Homo sapiens: one gene and its partner. The protein of the gene in region 1 interacts with the protein of each later gene in a pairwise test. Each region holds a gene or a part of one and is shown on either strand. Other genes may lie near its edges.

Region 1 (3,657 bases):
CAGCTAATTTCTGTATTTTTAGTAGAGATGGGTTTTCACCATGTTGGCCAGGATGGTCTCCATCTCTTGACCTCATTATCCGCCCACCTCAGCCTCCCAAAGTGCTGAGATTACAGGCATGAGCCACTGAGCCCGGCCATAATGGTTGAGTTTTTATGGCGTGTACGTTAATCCTCAATGAAACTGTTTTTTTAAAAACAGTGCTGGATGTACGGTAAGCACTCAGCAAGTCATGGTGATGTCACCCACTGGGAAGCACCCTCTGTGGTCCCTGCTGTGTGTGTGGAGGCTGAGGCAGTTTCAGCTTTGTCCTTACATCTCTCAGCCCACTGGGGACACAGACCTGGCCCCTGAGTGGTCAGCCCAGGGTGGGCAGGGGGATCCAGGGAGCTGTGGGAGCCCAGGGCCAGTGCCTGACCCAACCCCCAGCCTGGGGGTCAAGGAGGACTTCCAGGAGGAGGGAAGGCAGAGTGGGAACCCGGAGGACGAAGAGTTAACTGGCAGAACAAGGAGCTAGCCCTGATTTACTGACTTCATGCCCTCCAGCTAGAGCTCACTCAGTGACTCTTCACAACAACCCCAGGAGGTGGGCACTGTTCTGACCCCATTTTCCAGATGAGGAAACTGAGGCACAGAGAAGTTAGGGGACTAGCTAGGCGTGGTGGCTCACGCCTGCAATCCCAGCACTTTGGGAGGCTGAGGCGGGTGGATCACCTGAGGTCAGGAGTTCGAGACCAGCCTGACCAACATAGTGAAACCCCGTCTCCACTAAAAATACAAAAAAATTAGCTGGGTGTGGTGGTGGGCACCTGTAATCCCAGCTATTCGGGAGGCTGAGGCAGGAGAATCACTTGAACCCAGGAGGCGGAGGTTGCAGTGAGCCAAGGTCCTGCCACTGCACTCCAGCCTGGGCAACAAGAGCGAAACTCCGTCTCAAAAAAAAAAAAAGAGAGAGAAGTTAGGGGACTTACTCAAGACACACAGGTAAGAGGCGACAGAAGAGGAGTCCCATGGGCCCCTATGCTCCTCCGGGGAGCTGGTGCTTGCACCCATCCTGCCTGAGAGGAAGCAGCCTCCTTGCGGGCAACGCAGGGACCGGGATGGGGTTGGGGGCCGTTGTTTTGGGGGAGGAAGGGCCAAGTCACTGGAGGGACAGCAACTGGAGCCCCCCCTCCCTCCCGGTGTCTCCACAAACACACATACTGGCCCAGATTCGGAAAGTGTGTCTCATGGGGCGGGGAGGGAAGAAGGGAGAGAGGTTGAGTCAGTGTGGGATGGGAGACGTGGCAAAAAGGAACCTTGGGCCCACAACGGCACTCACCCAGCGAAAACAGGCATTGTTGGCACTTCCATAGCGCCTACTGTGTGCACACACAAGTGTGCACCTTCTAAGTGCTTTGTATGTTTTAACTAATTTAACCTTTAGGACAACTATGAGGCCGCTAGTATTATTATTCCCAGTGTGTGTGTGTGTGTGTGTGTGTGTGTGTGTGTGTGTGTGTGTGTGTTTTGTTTTTCTGTTTGTTTATTTTTGAGACCAAGTCTCACTCTATCGCCCAGGCTGGAGTGCAGTGTCATGAGCTCGGCTCACTGCAACCTCCACCTCCTGGGTTCAAGCAATTCTTCTGCCTCAGCCTCCCGAGTAGGTGGGATTACAGGCAAGCACCACCACACCCAGCTAATTTTTGTATTTTTAGTATAGACAGGGTTTCACCATGTTGCCCAGGCTGGTCTCGAACTCCTGACCTCAGGTAATCTGCCCACCTTGGCCTCTCAAACTGCTGGGATTACAGGCGTGAACCACTGCGCCCAGCCCATTATTCCCATTTTGCAGGTAAGAAAACTGAGGCAAAGAGAGGTTAAGTGGCTTGCCTAAGGTCCCACAGTTTAAAAGCAGCAGAAAATAGGCTGGGCGGTGGCTCATGCCTGTAATCCCAACACTTTGGGAGGCCGAGGTGGGTGGATCACGAGGTCAGGAGTTCAAGACCTGCCTGGCTAAGACGGCGAAACCCCGTCTCTACTAAAAATACAAAAAAATTAGCCGGGCATGGTGGCAGGCGCCTGTAATCCCAGCTACTCCGGAGGCTGAGGCAGAGAATTGCTTGAACCCAGGAGGCGGAGGTTGCAGCGAGCCGAGGTCGCACCACTGCACTCCAGCCTGGAAGACAGAGTAAGACTCCATCTCAAAAAAAAAAAAGTAGCATAACATAAATAAATAAAAGTAGCAGAGCCCAGATTTGAGGGCTTTACTATGCTACAATCACACATGCGTGTGTTCACACATCTTACATGCAGAGGCAGCCACACACATGAGCTCGCATACACACACACACACACACACACACACACACACCCCCAGTAGCACATCCAGACACAAACATAGCCAATTACTACAAGATGCAGGCTCCCAGACATACCCGTGTTCACAATCTGGGACCTACACAGATGTTTGTGGTCACACAATCACAAAGATAATGTGAGATGCACACACGGCATAGACACAGAGACCTGCACGAACACACAGGTACAGAGGCACACATGCATGCACACCCACACAGACACAGTCGCACACACATAACCTCCCATGCCCTCCCAAATCCAAAGGCACACACACAGACGTAATCACACACAGTTACACAAAAGATGCACTCCTGCACACACACACATTCTCACATACACAACACCACACAGAAGCACACAACTGTATCCGGAGATACAATCACAGGTAGTCACACACAGTCCCACAAAATCCCCGCAGCCCTGACCGCCCCATGCAGCCACACAAAGTCACACACAGCCCACAGCCCAGATACACATATATGCCTAGACCATCTCACACACAGGCACACAATGTCAGACTCACACCTACAATGATACACACTAAATCCACATAGACACATAGACAAAAGTTGCCCTTTATGTCTGTCTCTCTCACACACACACGTCACAATATAACAGTATATAGGGACAGAATCAGTTGCACACTATCCCACAAAGTCTCTCATAGCCCTACACAGCCCTTCAGAGTCACACAAAGTCATCCAGCAGGCCGGGCATGGTGGCTCACACCTGTAATCCCAGCACTTTGGGAGGCCAAGGCAGGAGGATCACCTGAGGTCAGGAGTTCGAGACCAGCCTGGCCAACATGGTGAAATCCCGTCTCTACTAAAAAAAAATACAAAAATTAGCCGGACATGGGTGCGGCGGGCGCCTGTAGTCCTGGCTACTCAGGAGGCTGAGGCAGCAGAGCCACTTGAACTCGGGAGGCAAAGGTTGCAGTGAGCCGAGATCGCGCCACTCCACTCCAGCCTGGGCGACAGAGTGAGACTCTGTCTCAAAAACAAACAAAACAAAGTCTTCCAGCCACAATTATAGGCACATGCGCACACACACACACACACACAGAGGCATGTACACAATTCAAAGTCATACAACCTCAGAGCCATGGCCACAATGAGGCACGTCCACTGCTATACACAAATGCGTGGAACCACCACACCCAGGAGTACACTCATAATGACACACTTTCCCAAGATATACACAAAGTCACACACACACACACACACACACATATACACACCAACAGCTGGACACTCTCTCCTCCTCTTCCTCTATCCTCAAGGCCAGGGAGGGAGACCCCGTTCCCCACTCCCCCAC
Region 2 (3,031 bases), on another chromosome or scaffold:
TAGATTCTCTCTCTCCCTTTCTTCATTGATATTTATGGTTCTCTATTCTGCCTCGCATATAACACTCATAGATGATTTATACAGTGGAATTGTTAGGTTTTACCGAAGATGCTTTTTTAAAAAAATACCACTATTTTTATTCTCCAAGAAAAGAAAATTGACATTTAATCTATGGTGTTGATATTTTGCAATAGTTATCATAAGTCTTATCTTTTTTAAATATTTCAGACCTCATAACGCCATTTTATTATGTACATAACCCTCTGTAAAGTTTGGATAACTATAGCTACTTTTTATATAGGAATCTGTTTTAGTGAACTTAAATTATTTGCTTAAAGTCAAACTATTAAGTGTTGGAATTGTCATTGTCTTTGGAATTGGATACCAACAATTCATGTGTGATTTTTGTAGCTAATTGAAGGTACATCTGTATTGGGGAGTGGAATATTATATTTTTTATCTTGTGTTTTATCTAGCTATTACCTATATTTAATAATGGTTCAAAGAATTTTAGCTTTACACTATATGAAAAATCACATTGCCTTTGCATTTAGATTTTCTTTCGAAATAAGCTTTGGATTATGTTCAAATAAGCTATGGGAGTACATAGGAGGCATCTCTGCTGGCTTTGTGGGTTAGGGAAAGCTTCCCATTGGAGGTGACCTATCAGCTGAGTCTTGAAGGGAAAGCACTGTATTTTTATATACATATACATATGTATATATATATGTATATATATGTATTTTTTTTCCCCCTTAGGTATTTGATTCCAAATGCAGGGGATGCAACTAAAGCCATAAAACAGCAGATCATGAAAGTTTTGGATGCTTTGGAAAGTTAATATAAAAGAAAATTATATAAAAAGAAATTAAGACAACCAAGAGAAACATGGACATATACCTCCTGACTGAATACTAACTGGAGACCTTTCATTTGCTCATGGGGCTGCTTAAATAGCAGGTCTAAGAAAGTGTAAATTATTATAATCAATCTGTGGACAGTAAACTTTTTAAAAATTTTTCTTCTGCATTTTGGTTTTATAAAATGATGTATTATAAAGGTCAGTTATTAAATTACTTTGAAGTAACTGACCCTGTGCCCTTATGGACTAAGTAAGGGTACAGAATGCAGTTCTGTTTTGAAGAGCTGTTTTAAGGGAACATGCATCACTTTCGGGATCAAAAACAACTGTACACATACATATCTGCAGTGTCTTCACTGAAAATTAGAGATAGAATTAGTTGAAGAGACTTCCTTAATTGCTACATTGTTTTACTCACTGAGCAATATCAGAAACTAAAACATAGATTAATAATTCACTCACTGTTTCTATTCTTCTTAAAAAGAGTGAAATCTTTTTAATGGAATGGTTGAAGATTCCTGCCAACTCAAAATACAGTACAGCTAGTAAAATGTTGAAACATCAGTTTCTAAATCACCTTTGCTCCATTAGCTAATTTTTTGGACACTAAATGCTTCAAAGATAAGAAACTTCATCCTAATGATTTCTAAAGAGCAGTTAAAAGCATTAAAATAAGTAGGTAGGCTGTTAAGATTAAAATTAACATTTTGGGGACAGAATTGTGTCTGTAAAAATGTCATTGGTTTTATTACAAGCGGATTATTTTATTCATATTTTAAAACAAATGTTTAAGCCACATTGATTTATCCTCATTGAGGATTATGGTCTGTGACCACAGTAATATCCACTTATATAAATGCCAAATAATCAGAGAGCTTATAAAGTACAATTGTTTTTGTCATCATTTTCTGAATTTCTTTCTCTTCTTTTGGTTTTGTCCTCTCATTGAAGTTCCAGTGGTTTGAAATTAGTTTTGGACACATTGTCTTAATGTACTGAAAATTGCTCTGCTGTATTTTGCAGCGTTCTTCATTTAATTTATAATGGTCCATATTAGACACATTTGGTAAGAGAAGTCCAGGAACACATTTAGGGCCATGGAATAGTATTTTGTAAAATCCATTTGGGAAGTTGCAATACCCACAATCTGACATGTCCTAAAATGTAAGGGATTATCTCTAAGGGGTTGATGGGAGAAATATTTAGATGTACCCTGTTAACAGCCAGTCATTTTGATTTACTTATGGAAATCAAGTGAATAAAAGGCAACATAATTTGGGAAATTTTATTCTAATATCTAATAAAAACAGTTTGAGTGGTTGAAGACATCTGCATGAAATTGCACCTAGGTGCATTACTTGATATAACTCTCCCCTAAAACTGTTGTAATTGCATTTTTTCCCTTTTCTTGGCACCCCTTTAGAAATGTACTGAAGTCTCATTTTTCACCCATTTCAGCCATGGGACATTTTTCATAATATTAATGTAAAGATGTTTGTGTTACTGTTTATAAATTACAATTGTAAATAAATTACTAGTTTGCCCAAAACTTTGTTCTTAAAGACACTGTCTCTCTCTTTCTTTTCCCTATTTGCAAATCTCTTAAGGTCACAAAATTAGAGAATTGAAGGCATGTAGTAAGTTACCTACTACCATGAACTACACAGTTACAGGATTATTTATGACTATTAAATGAAAATACATTTCATTGACTGTTCTAGGCACTTGTGTAGATCATCCTCCCTTCACTGGCCCACTGACCACAGAGCTGGGAATCACTCTGGGGTGGCCACCTCTCATGGGCTCTTGTGATTGCAAAGGTTGCAACTTTAGGAGGTTGTTTTTTGTATTTTCAAGATAAGGAAACCAAGGCTCAAAGAAATTGAGTGAAAAGAGAAAGTATTCCTCTTATCTCCACACTCCTTGGAAATTATTTTTGTCTGTGAAGGTATACAATTATTTCTCCTATATAGGATTGATGCCATTTGCCCACCATTAATAAAACTTGGTCAGTATGATAAATTTGTATTGACATACTCAACCATTTTTGTCACTGGTATGTTTCACACAGGACCTTTAACTCCTTAGCACGATACTCTTACATTAGACTAACCAGCCATAAATTGGCAGTCCTAGTTAAAATTCATAGTTTGATGTGGGGGAACCCCA

What was found.
Region 2: the proteins of EHD2 (region 1) and TBC1D23 interact in a two-hybrid assay, tested with the Homo sapiens proteins (one large-scale study listed by BioGRID and IntAct).

The regions. Positions count from the first base shown.
Region 1 is NC_000019.10:47,719,861-47,723,517, reverse strand, and holds part of EHD2 (EH domain-containing protein 2), read right to left. Parts: intron 1-3,657. UniProt on the Homo sapiens protein: ATP- and membrane-binding protein that controls membrane reorganization/tubulation upon ATP hydrolysis. Plays a role in membrane trafficking between the plasma membrane and endosomes. Important for the internalization of GLUT4.
Region 2 is NC_000003.12:100,322,828-100,325,858, forward strand, and holds the end of TBC1D23 (TBC1 domain family member 23), read left to right. Parts: intron 1-759; coding exon 760-841; 3' UTR 842-2,411; downstream 2,412-3,031. UniProt on the Homo sapiens protein: Putative Rab GTPase-activating protein which plays a role in vesicular trafficking. Involved in endosome-to-Golgi trafficking.